Linked DNA regions of Homo sapiens: all the other regions are linked to region 3. The links come from fine-mapping of genetic effects on gene expression. A gene starts in region 3. Each other region holds a variant in brackets. All regions are shown on one strand. Distances are from middle to middle. Region 1 overlaps MIATNB (MIAT neighbor). Region 2 overlaps MIATNB (MIAT neighbor). Region 3 holds the start of MIATNB (MIAT neighbor).

Region 1 (4,233 bases), 57 kb after region 3:
AGGAATACCCAAGGTTGCGTAATTTATAAACAAAGGAGGTTTATTTTGGCTTACAATTCTGGAGGCTATACAGGAGGGATGGCGCCAGCATCTGCTTCTGGGGAGGACCTCAGGAAGCTTCCAATTATGGCAGAAGGTGAAGGGGGAGCAGGCATGTCACAAGATGGAGCAAGTGAGAGTGGGAAAGAGGTGTCAGTCCCTTTTAAAACAACCAGATCTTGTGGTAACTCATTACCATGGGGAGGGCACCAAGCCATTCATGAGGCTTCCACCCCTATGACATAAACACCTTCCACTAGCTCCACCTCCAACATTGGGGATTACATTTCAACATGAGATTTTCAGGGGAGAGGCAAATATCCAAACTATATCAAGGTGTATGATGCATAGCAAAGGAGACAATGCCCAAGGCGTGATAGCCGGGGGACTTGGTGGGCACTGGATGGAGGATTTGGAGGCCCAGATTGGAGAGCAAAAGGAAGAACTTGAGATTGAGTGTCTTAGTTCGTTTTCTGCTGCTCTAACAGAATACCTGAAACCCAGCAATTTGTAAAGAACAGAAATGTATCCTTTTACAGTTCTGGAGGCTGGAAAGTCCAAGATCAATATGCTGGTACCTGGTGTGGGCCTTCTTACTGCATCTTCACATGGCAGAAGGTGGAAGGGCAAGAGAGGGGTGAACTCTGTGTCCTCACATGGCAGACAAGCAGAAGAGAGTGAATACACTTTAGCAAACCCTTTTCATAGTGGCATTAATCTATTCATGAGGGTGGAGCCCCACCTCCCAAAACTGCTGCATTGGGGATTAAGTTTCAACATGATTTTGGAGAAGACAAAACATTCAAATCATAGCAATGAGTGTAGGACGCAAGCCAGGTAACCTCACTGTATCAGTGAGCAGTTGTACCCTCACTGTATCAGACCAACGTTGGCTACAAATTTCCTGCTGCAAAACATGAGCTCTCAAATGGAAAAGAAATGAAGATAGTTCATGCCTTGTCACATGCAACAAAAACGTTGCTTTATTTTGTCTGGGAAGAGCAGAGAGCCACTGAAGGATTTTGAGCAGTGCAGCGATGGAGATAGGTTTTGAAGGTCATTTTGGGACTGGAGCATGAGGCAGCAAGACAGCAGAAAGTCACCAAGTGGGGTCCAAGCTGATTCCATTGGCTTATTAGTGAAGGGCTCTAATCCTGCCAGGGGCTGGTGCCACAGAGTTGTGCCACATGTGACAAAGGACATGCTCCCTGAGCCAATCTCTGGACTCTGCAAGTTCAGTGCTTAGGGTCAATCACTCATTCCAGAAATGTTTATTGAGCACTTACTTTGTGCCAGGCACTGTGCTAGAACTCGAGGTGGACACAACCATGAGCAAAGAGGCAAACAAATCTATGCCATCATGGAGCTTGCAGTTTGAAGAGTTCCTCAACTGGGGCAAACCCAGTGATTGTTTCTCAATTCCTTCACTGTTTGTTCAGCTCCCTTGACAGCTGGTCCATTCCGTCTCAGGCTATACCTAGCACACAGTGAAAGGAGAAGGGCACCAGACCACAAGGTTTCTGTTATGATCCTGGTCTTGAATATCATGACCTGAAGAAACCTTTACTTTTATTATTATTATTACTTATTTATTTTATCTTTATTTTTATTTTTTTGAGATGGAGTCTCGCTCTTGTCATCCAGGCTGGAGTGCAGTGGTGTGATCTCAGCTCACTGCAACCCCCCCCTTCTGGGTTCAAGCGATTCTCCTGCCTCAGCCTCCCAAGTAGCTGGGATTACAGGCACTTGCCACCACGCCCAACTATTTTTTTTTGTATTTTTAGTAGAGACAAGGTTTCACCATGTTGGCCAGGCTGGTCTCAAACTCCTGACCTCAGGTGATCTGCCCCTCTTGGCCTCACAAAGTGTTGGGATTACAGGTGTGAGCCACCGCACCCGACCTGTTTTTATTTTTATTTTTTAATTTAGTTTTTTGGGACAGAGTCTTGCTCTGTCACCGAGGCTGGAGTGCAGAGGCACGATCTCAGCTCACTGAAACCTCTACCTCCCGGGTTCAAGCCATTCTCCTGCCTCAGCCTCCTGAGTAAGCTGGGTCTACAGGCA[T/C]GTGCCACCATGCCTGGGTAATTTTTGTATTTTTATAGAGATGGGGTTTCACCATGTTGGCCAGGGTGGTCTCAAATTCTTGACCTCACGTGATCCACCTGCTTCAGCCTCCCAGAGTGTTGGGATTATAGGCGTGAGCCACCATGCATGGCCAGAAGGGACCTTTAAACCCCTAGAGTACACACACATCTTTGCAGCTGGGAAAACTAAAGCCTAGAGTGGCCAAGTAGCTTGCTCAAGAGCACACGGCATTAGAGATAGGGCGGGGAAAAGAGCTCTTTCCACTATTTAGTCTTTTAATATATTTTTGTTTGTTTTCACTGGTAATTATTGAGTGTCCACTGTGTGTGAGGTCTTGGAAACGCAGATATGAATAAGTCGCAAGGAGTCCCTATGCCCTTGAAGCCTCACCATCTAGTCTAGTGTAGTCCAGTGTAACTTTCAGGGTGATAGAATCATTCCATGTGGTAGCCACAAACCAAATGTGACTGCTGCAACTGAAATGTGCCTGGTGCAACTGAGGAAGTCTTAACTTTATCTCATTTAAATTAATTTAAACTTAGGCATCCACATTTGGTCAGTGGCAGCTGTGTTGGACATTGCAAGTCTAGTCTATGGTCACATGACCTCACACACACACACATTGATATTGTTTGGCTGTGTCTCTACTCAAATCTCATCTTCAATTGTAGTTCCCATAATCCCCACGTGTCGTGGGAGGGACCTGGTGGGAGGTAATTTAATCACAGGGGCATTTACCCTCATGCTGTTCTGGTGATAGTGAGTGAGTTCTCACTAGATCTGATGGTTTTATAAGGGGCTTTTCCCCCTTTGGCTTGGCACTTCTTTGTCCTGCCACCCCGTGAAGAAGGACATGTTTATGTCCCCTTCCACTATGATTGTAAGTTTCCTGAGGCCTTCCCAGCCCTGCAGAACTGAGAGTCAATTAAACCTCTTTCCTTTATAAACTACCCAGTCTCCAGTATGTCTTTATTAGCAGCGTGAGAACAGACTAATACACACAGTCATGAACTGTGATGAGTGCTGTGATAGATCAGAACCACTACATTGTGGGTCCGCAGGACCACTGACAGGTTCCATGAGTGATTTCAAGTTCTTTACTAGAAGGACTCCCAGAACTCAGAAGACCTGTTATCCTCATGGTTATGGTTTATTACAACAAAAGGATTCAGATTAAAATCTGCCAAAGAAAAAGGTGCATAGGGCAGGGTCCAGGAGAGACTTCCAGTTGTCCTCTCCCAGTGGAATCTTACAAACATGCTTAATTCTCCCACCAATGATGGGTGACAACATGTATCGAGTGTTGCCAACCATGGAAACTCACCTGAGCCTTGGTGTTCAGGGTTTTAATTGGAGGTCAGTCACATAGGTGTGGAGTTACCTATGGAATGACCTTAATTACTTGGTCACCAGCCCCTCCAGAAGTCAACGTGATATAATCACATGGTTACATAGATTGTCTGGCCTGGTTTGGCCCAAGTGCCCAGGTATACAAAGACACTTGAGTTAGGGAGGATACTGCAAGAGCTTAGAGTTACTCTCCCAGCAGTCAGTCAGGTGCTTTCTTTGGAACATGCAGGGTGTGAACACCGTAAGTCTGCTAAGTTAACCCTTTAATGCACACTAGGAATCTATTGGGGAAAATGACGGGGGCTTTGAAGCTTGGAGATTTAGAGAAGGTGTTGCTTGTTGCTGACCATTTCATCTGAGTAAGTTATCACCCTTCTCAGTGGCATGCTCCTACCATTTGACTTATTGTAATTTATAATTTTTCTATTTATCTGCTTGTTTACTTGCTTTTATCTGCCTCGTTTGCTAAACTAAGAGCTCCAGGAGGGTAATTTGTGTGTCTGTTTAGTTTCCTCAGTTTTCCCAGGCCTTAGCATGCTTAGTGTGCTGCTTTGCAGGGCCAACACTAGGAAATGAACCAAATGAGGCACTGTTCTGGGGTGCAAAATTTAAGGGGCGACAGAAGCAGTGATAAAAAAATCAGTAATCAAGATAAATAATGTTATAATGTAGTATTTTCAGAAATCAAAATGCAAAAAATCAAAAATATCAAAATGTTAAATAAAGATGGTGTAGTAGTTTGTTCTCGCATTGCTATAA
Region 2 (4,233 bases), 76 kb after region 3:
GTGGTGACAGTTGACAATAATGAACTTAATGCTACTGATCTGTGTACTTAAACATGGTTAAAACAATACATTTTATGTTTGTTATATTTTACCACAATAAACAGCTACTTAAAAGTCTCTAGGCTTCTCAAGTCCTTTCCATGGAATTGAATGAATGCTTGTTTCTTTATTTGGACAAAACAAAGATGACACAATAATAGAGTGAGGATGATGATGATGATGGTGATGATGGTGGTGACAGTAACAGGTACAATAAATTGTGCTCCTAGAATGACCCAGGTTTGATTCAAAGTGTTTCTTATGCATGAGCACTGTAAGTCCACCTGTGAGGAGGAGATTATTACATCTGTCTTAGGAATGGGGAAACTGAGGCTCAGAGAGGTTAAGTGACTTGCCCAAAGCCACACAGCTTAAACCCAAGGCTAGTTGACTTTGAAGCCCATACTTCAAACACACCCTCTCTGTATCTTTATCTTATTTAGAAGGTAAAACAGCCACAGGACCTTTTCAATGACAATTCCTTGCCATTTTCCTCCCAGGGTCACCTTCCAGCCGCAAAGCCACAACACTCCCACTTCCTTTGCCTCCCTTGGCTCTCACAGAGCTTGGCTAAATCCAGTGCTAAGACTGAGTTGTCAAACAGGAGATAGAAAGAGAGAAAAAGCAATTTCTTCCATTTCTTGGCTCAATCCTATGCAGTCAATACTGTTAACAGTAAATCAAATAACAAGACTGCATTGACCCAGGAAAAGGCCAAGAAGAAAAAAATTCAGAGCAGAATCCAAAAAAGTAGAAAATAAAGTTCGGCCATAGGCATAAATCATACCTGGAGAACTGAGCCCACAGCACCAGCCTCAGGATGAGCCTGAGCTGCCCCCGAAAGCTGGGTCCCAAAGACCCCTGCTTTTGACTTTCAACTTTCTAGGACCCCTGTTTCTGGTAGATCCAGGGGAAAGGAGATCGCTCAGGGACGGGTTGAGGATATCTGATTTGCGGTCCCTCTGATTTGGGATGTCACTCCTCAACCCTGGGCTGAACTGGGAAAGGGGATCTGCAGAAAATGACTTTGGGAGAAAGTCCCCTTTGACTGCTCCCCTAACCCCTGCATTCCTTCTGGCATGCTGATCTTTTCAAGTTTCACAGTGCTGGATGCCGGCTCCAAAAAGAAAGAGGTTCACATGCTCTAAAAAGTATTCAATCTTGTCTGAGCCATGTTGCTGCCTGAACTATGGCTTCTTTAAATTAATGGAGTCATTCAACAAACATTTATGAAGCACCCACTGTATGCCAGGCATTGTTCTAAGGCCTTGGGGATTTAGCTGGGAACAAAATAGACACACATTCCTCACTTCACTGAAGCTACATCCTAGTGAGTGGTGGAAGATGATAAAACAAGGTTTGTATACTATGTTGGACAGTAATAGATGCTATGAGGAAACAAAGAAGGTAAAATGGGTTTCGTGTGTTTGTTGGGGATGGGGAGAGTCCAGTTTAGTTAAGGAAAAGAGACATTTGAGCAAAGACTTCAAAGGAGGCGAGGATGTGAGCCGTGGGGGTATCTGGGAGAAGGGTGTTTCAGGGACAGGGATCAGCAGGTGCAAAGGCTCTGAGGCAGGACGTGCTGGGGGCCTTTTGAAAAAAAGTGAGATATTACTGGAGGAAGTGAAGGGAGAGGGTGGCAGATGGTGAGGTCCAAGTTGGAGAGGTGACCAAGGGACCAGATTCTGTAGGGCCTCTGGGTGGATGCAGGGACTTTGGCTTTCCTCTAGGTGAAGTGTGGATTGTTGGGAAATTTGGAGCTGCAAAGGGACCTAATCTATTGGGTTTTAGCAATAAATGTTTACTTGTCAGTTTCTTCAGCCATGTGCTCTGACTAGTTAAGGTCATTAAAAAAATAGATGGAATTGCATGGGAATTTGTACATCCCTGAGAAGCACTCTCTGTGAAAATAACCTCCGATGCCCTGGCACATTCTTGGCTCTCAATAAATGCTCAAACATATTATTTGACCATAGAGAGAGGTCAGGATGGATGTTCAACAAAGAGTTAATGGTGCTTCCTTGGGAGAGTAGCTGGAATGAGTGTGGCAAGTAAAGGTTAATTATCTCTTTTATTTCTCTTTGTATTCATCAGATTGTTTTTTCAATTTTTATAGCTTTTTTGTTTTTTGAGATGGAATCTCACTCTGTTGGCCAGACTGGAGTGCAGTGGCGCAATCTCGGCTCACTGCAACCTCTGCCTCTCAGGTTCAAGTGATTCTCCTGCCTCAGCCTCCCAAGTAGC[C/T]GGGACTATAGGGGAGCACCACCACGCCCACCTAATTTTTGTATTTTTTGGTAGAGACGGGGTTTCACCATATAGGACAGTCTGGTCTCGAACTCCTGACCTCGTGATCTGTCCACCTCGGCCTCCCAAAGTGCTGGGATTACAGGCATGAGCCATTGTGCCTGGCCTATAGCTTTTTTTTTTTTTAAGGCAAGTTGAATGGGTGGGTGAAGACTAGGAGCTCTGTTTTGAGTTCTGTGACCTTGGTTCTGCCACTTGTGATTCTGAGCATTCATTTGCTCATATTTTTCACGAGTTAAAACTCTAAACTCTAATAGCTGCTTATGAAGTTTTAGGGGGGATAACAATGTAAATGGAATACGTTGTTCAGTGCCTGGCATAGAAATCAACGCTGATTTTAGTTTGCAAGGAGCCATGTAAGGTTTTTAAGGAGAGAAGTGAAGGCAAAAGATCTGGGTTTTAGAAAAAAGGATCACAGGGGTGTCCGTGCTAGTCTCCAACTACTGCTCTGAGCAAGCTTGGCCTCCTCCCTCTCCCTGGGCAGCTAGGGGCAGCTGGCCATTCCTTCTCCCCTTGATTTCCCTACCCCAGCCTAGTCTTCTCCACCCTTCCTGGGGAAAGCCAACCCCTTGCCTGGCAGGCCTCCCGGCAACCAAAGGACTTCTTTGAGGGAAGAAGCCACGTTACCCAGAAAAAATCAATAGAATCTTTTTCCAGGCAAATTTCAGAGACTTGTGAGAAGCAGCAGCAGCCTGGGAACTTGTCTCCCATTCAGCGTAGGAACCTCTTGCACAGCATTTGGCTATGAGGCCCTCAAAGTGGACACGTGTTCGTATCTCCTTTTCAGCAACTGCCCCGCTTTCTGGTAACAGCATGCCATCTTCCTTGAAAAGCCACCCTTGGCCATGCCAAGCCCAACAACATGGGTAGAGGTGACTCCTTCTCCTCCCTCACTGGAGGTAGGCATGGCCAGTGAACCAGGTCTGAGCCAATCGAGTACTGCTGCCCTCAGCCTACAGTGATTGATTCAGAGATGAGACTCAAGGAGGGCCAGCCGCAGGATTTTGGTTCAGTCTGATGATGTAACAGTCAGAGTGGACTGTGATATGCTGCAATATAACTAATACCTCCTAAATTCTCAGTTACAGTGACTCAGGTTTTTAAAAATTTTTTTTATTAATTTATTAATTTTATTTTTTATTTCAATTGGTTTTTGGGGAGCAGATGGTGTTTGGTTACATGAATAAGTTTTTAATGGTGATTTCTGAGATTTTGGTGCACCCCTCACCCCAGCAGTCTACATTATACCCAATGTGTAGTCTTTTATCCCTCACCCCCTCCCACCCTTTCCCGTGAGTCCGCAAAATTCATTCTGTCATTTTTATCCCTTTGTGTCCTCAAAGCTAACCTATCACTTGTAAGTGTGGAATGTTTGGTTTCCCATTCCTGAGTTACTTCACTTAGAATAATGGTCTCAAATGCCATCCAGGTTGCTGTGAATGCTTCGATTTTATTCCTGTTTATGGCCGAGTAGTATTCCATGGTGTATATATATCTATATATCACCTTTTCTTTATCCGCTCGTTGATTGATGGTCATTTGGGCTAGTTCCATATTTTTGCAATTGCGAATTGTGCTGCTATAAACATGTGTGGGCAAATATCTTTTTTGTATGATGACTTTCTTTTCCTCTGGCTAGATACCCAGTAGTAGGATTGCTGGATCAAATAGTAGCTCTACTTTTAGTTCTTTAAGGAATCTAGTGGCTCAGGTTTATTTTTTATTTTTTATTTTCTTATTTTTTATTTTTAGATGGAGTCTTGCTCTGCCGCCCAGGCTGGAGTGCAGTGGCACAATCTCAGCTCACTGCAACCTCCACCTTCCGGGTTCAAGCAATTCTCCTGCCTCAGCCTACCGAGTAGCTGGGACTACAGGTGTGCACCACCACGC
Region 3 (4,233 bases):
CAAGTTCTGAGTGCCTGGGAAGTGGTAGAGAGACCCCAGAGAGGGCTGCTGCAGTCTGGAACAGCTTCCTAGCAAGCTGTACCAAACAGGGCCTTGAAGGATGAGAAAGATCTGGCTGAGATGATACCCGACCCTCTAGGGAAATTCTTAAAGTAACTTCTAGGAAATGTCATTGCTCCTTAAAAAAAAAAAAAAAAAAAAAAAAGCAGGTTCTAATTCAAATTCCGCTGCACTACTGAAGTAGTGCAGGACTTATCAGAACCTTTAAAATGCTAATGGCAATTTCAAATACTCAGGGACAGGGCATAGGATGAAGTGTTCCTTGACTTTTATGGCCGTAGAATCTTTTTCTCATGGAACATCGTTTAGAACTGTGGGAGATGCTAGGCTGGGGTTTCTATGGGAAAAGTACAGCAGTGATAGAAGATGGCATAATTAGGGTACACTTAGGTGCTTTGTAGCATTGGCTGAAAAGGAAGCAGACCGGGTGGGCGTGGGGGAGTCTCAACTTGGTTCCAGGAGCCAGGCCAGCTTGATGCGTTTTTTTTTTTTCTAATGGTGGGAGGGCAGGCCAATAGTTGGAGAAACTAGAGGCCTGACAGTCGGTGATGGAAGAGATGTCTACTAAGCACGGTTGTCAGATCTTTTGCGGAGAGATGCGGGTGTGCGTGTGTCTGTCAGAGTGTAACAGGATCCAGCCCTCTGGGAAGGGGCTGACCAGAACCAGGCAGGGGGTTTCTGTCTAGGACAAGTAGGGTCCATTTTCAGGGGAGCTGAAATATTTGCAGGGGGTGCTCTGAGACCCACAGCCAATAAATAGGGAAGCAACATGCTTTTGGGCAGGGTCCATGTGGTTAGGGTTGATTTTGATGGGGCTGGGGGGCTTAGAGTTAGACCCCCTGCCCTGGTCAGGCCCCACTCCCTGGCTGGTGGGGGCGGGAGGCCTCTGAAGCTGCAGCTGGAGGGGCCGGGGCAGTGTTGCATGGTGTGATTAACCTACTAACCCAGGGCTCAGCCGGGACGCTGTGGCGTGTGACGAGGTGCCTGGCCTTCTGCCAACCAACTAACCCACTAACCAGGCCCGAGCATGCCCTACTAACCACCCCCCCGCAGCCAGATCCTACTAACTGTGCAGCTCATGGGCCTTTCAAGGGGCTGGGATATGGGGGCAGCCAAGGCTCCAGAAGGCTCTGCCTATGGGCTGGGATCTTTGTGCAGACCCACGTTCCAGGACAGAGAATGCAAATAAGACTCACCAACTCTGCCACTTCCTGTTGAGTGAGTTTGAGTAAGTCACCTCACTTCTCTCAACCTCAGTTTCCTCAGTGGTAGAATGCGAGTTCTGATACCTTACAGGTTGCAGTGAGGATTCCCGTCAATATAAGGGTCTCAGCACATGGCAGACACCTAAAAAAAAAAAAAGTATGAGGATGGAGGAAGGCCCCTCAAACCTGGTTGAACACGTCTGCTGCCTAGGCCCTGGCCTCTCTGGGTGTTCTGCACACAGATCCTTCTGCCTGGGGCAAGACACTTGGCTTTGAATCCATGTCACTTCCCCACATTCTTCCTCCGTCTCAGCTTTCTTTTCTGTAGGCAGCTCTTTTGTTCGATTACTAACCCGTCTAACCCCTGGGGTGCCTCAACTGCACCCCGATCATCCCTTAACAAACTAACGGACCTGCGTGCGTTCTTCCTTTTCTCTTAGCGACTCCTGTGTGTGTCTGCTGAGGTGCCCTGTCCGCTGGTGCTGTGCTCTGACTTACTAACCCAGCCCCTACTAACCCTGTTTTCTCTTCTTACTAACCCCAGCCCTGCCGAGCTCTGGGCTCCCCCCGGGGGCTGGTCCCCCTCCTTTTGGCAAGCAGATGACCTGGGGCTACTGGCCCTGTAGACAGATGTCCCACTTTGCTGCCCCATATTGGCTGTAAGATCAGAGTCCACTGGGCCAGGTCTAAGGCAGGGGATGGCCCTATTAACAAGACTCAGAGGAGGAAGAGGTGGTCCTGTGGATGTGGGAGGCTGGACTCTGAGTATGACATCTCTCCTATGTGCAGAAGTCTGGTTGCCACTGGGAGTAGGTGGGACCAGGGAAATCTCTGGGACGTGAGTGTGGAGGCCTGTTGGTCTAGACTCTAGACTGTGGAGCTCTGAGCTTTTGTGTCCTCTGGAAGGAAGCTGGGGAAGAATCCTCTCCATTGTTAAGTGACGGGGATAGAAGCTGTCCTGCACAGGAAGTCACGAGGGGGGCGTATCCCACGAGGAAGGCAGGAGGGGGCGTGCCCCTCACCGGAAATTAGCAGAGGGGCGTGTCCCACACCGGAAGTCAGAAAGCGGAGCCTTTCTTACACCGGAAGTCAATGAAGCGGGTCTTTCCTACGCTAAAAACCACTGAGTGGAGTATTTAGTACACAGGAAGTCGGCCAGAGAAACATTTCTCATATTTGAAGGCCGGAAAGAGGGACATTTCTGACACCGGAAGTCAGTGAGAGGACTCTTTCCCACACAGGAAGTCAGCTAGAGAGCCGTCTCCCCTCTCTGGAGCCGAGAGAGGCCGGTTTCCCCCACCGTAAGTAGACGTGGGGCCGTGACCGGAAGTCCTTGGGAAAGATCCGTCCCATTCCCGGAAGCTAGAGGGCGTTAGTTGTCGGGTTGAAAAGGGGTGTGGGGAGGGGAAGCAGCTTTACCCCGGGCTCGGAGTTTGCAGGAGAGAGAAGTGGGGAGCAAGAAGTGAACCTCAGGGGCTCACAGGGTTCCCGCAGATGCTCAGGCCGGCCAGGAATGCATCTCTGGCTCTCTGTTCCCACGGACGTCACTGCCTCAGCCAGCCTCCCCCAGAGCCCGCCAGCCGCTAAGCCGGGGCCACACCTGGGGGTGATTTCATGCCTCACCTCCAGTAGGCACCTTGGTTTCTTTGGGCTAATCTCTGGCTCCCTTGCGCTAACTCTTGCTCTCACCCAGCTAATCCCTGCCTCACCCTGACTGCCCCAGGGGCTGACCACTAACAACCAACCTGGCCCTGTCTGGGGGTTCCAGGCTCCTGGCCTGGCCCTGACCGGTTCTTAATTAACCTTTCCTTCACCTTGACTAACTCCTGCCTTCCTGGTCTGTTCCTTTCAGCAGAAACTAATGGTTTGTGGATTTTTTTCTGACTAACAACAGGTCTAACATTCCTCGTTACTGTTAACAGCTTGGATGTCGGCATGGCTGGGAAGGGGCTAACACAGCTTTGAACTTGGCTAACACAGGTTTGAACTTGGCTAACACAGGTTTGAACTTGACTAACACAGGGAAAAGCATAGCTAACAATTTTGGGCGTGGTGGCTGCTCTGAGTCAGAACAATCAGAAGTCGGTAAAGATGGTAGTTTTCTAAAGGAGGTGCCAGGGCTCTGGTGTGGACCAGGCCTGATGGAGCAGTGGTACCCACCAAGGTGGGGTCAGAAGTATAGCCAGTCTTGCAAGGTTTTGGCCATTGGGCATATCTTCACTCCTCATAGTCTGCATTTGGTTTCAGTTCTTAAAAAAATATAGCCTTATAGCTACAGTAGTTTGCACAAGTAGATGCAGCTCTTATAAACCTTAAAATACCTGTCTGGTGTCTACAGAGCATATGCCATTTTGTATAGAGTCACCCTTCCCCAGGCCAGGGCCTAGAGTCTTCATTTTGGGGACTTTGTGTTTTGGAAGTTCTAGGACATAAAGCTTTAGATCAGAGTATTCAGAAGGGTTATAACTCCGTCAGTCATTTACATGTTAGTAGTATAAATTATCTGAGCTTCCTGTTCTAACTTTTAGCTCTTCTAGCATAAACTCTTCTGTGCAATTTAGCTGCACCGAGGAAACGGGAGTTTTTCTGGAAGGGACTTTTGATCTCTTTAGACTGAGGGAACGTCCTTTGGGAGTAGAGGGGCAGGGAGCATACGCAAGGGATTCCAGGTGCAGGTAAAAGGTGGCACTAGTTCAAGGTTTTGCTGACTCAGTCTGGTAGTCAGAGTCTGCAGGAGAAGACAGTTCAAGGCAGGGCCTGGAGGATTGGATCAGTTTAGGGACAGGTCAAAGGCTGGCTTACAGACCTTAGAGGCAGGTTGCTTGGGTCGTTGAATGCTAGTCTGGTGCTGAGAGCCCTTTTCTCTGGCAACTGTGGACTCAGAGCTAACCAATTGTAGTTGGCAGTGGGGGTGAAGGGTGATCCAGAGGCCTGAGCTGCAGAGGGCACAAGAGAGAAAAGATGTCTT

Evidence for each region. PIP is the estimated chance that this variant, and not a neighbour inherited with it, causes the effect.
Region 1: its variant is the best candidate, but not a certain one, in a credible set for the expression of MIATNB in whole blood (INTERVAL, PIP 0.65).
Region 2: its variant is the best candidate, but not a certain one, in a credible set for the expression of MIATNB in whole blood (INTERVAL, PIP 0.84).

Annotation. Positions count from the first base shown.
Region 1 is chr22:26,727,254-26,731,486 of GRCh38, forward strand. All of the region lies in intron 2 of MIATNB (MIAT neighbor), which reads left to right. Among named protein-coding and RNA genes, the nearest start is that of MIATNB, 57 kb to the left of the region's middle. The variant T/C (reference allele first, on the strand shown) is at 2,104.
Region 2 is chr22:26,746,128-26,750,360 of GRCh38, forward strand. The region is part of intron 2 of MIATNB (MIAT neighbor); the gene reads left to right. Among named protein-coding and RNA genes, the nearest start is that of MIATNB, 75 kb to the left of the region's middle. The variant C/T (reference allele first, on the strand shown) is at 2,284.
Region 3 is chr22:26,670,422-26,674,654 of GRCh38, forward strand. It overlaps MIATNB (MIAT neighbor), which reads left to right and starts at 2,422. Exons shown (of 6, transcript NR_110543.1): 1 at 2,422-2,566. MIAT (myocardial infarction associated transcript) reads left to right here. Exons shown (of 5, transcript NR_033320.3): 5 at 1-4,233.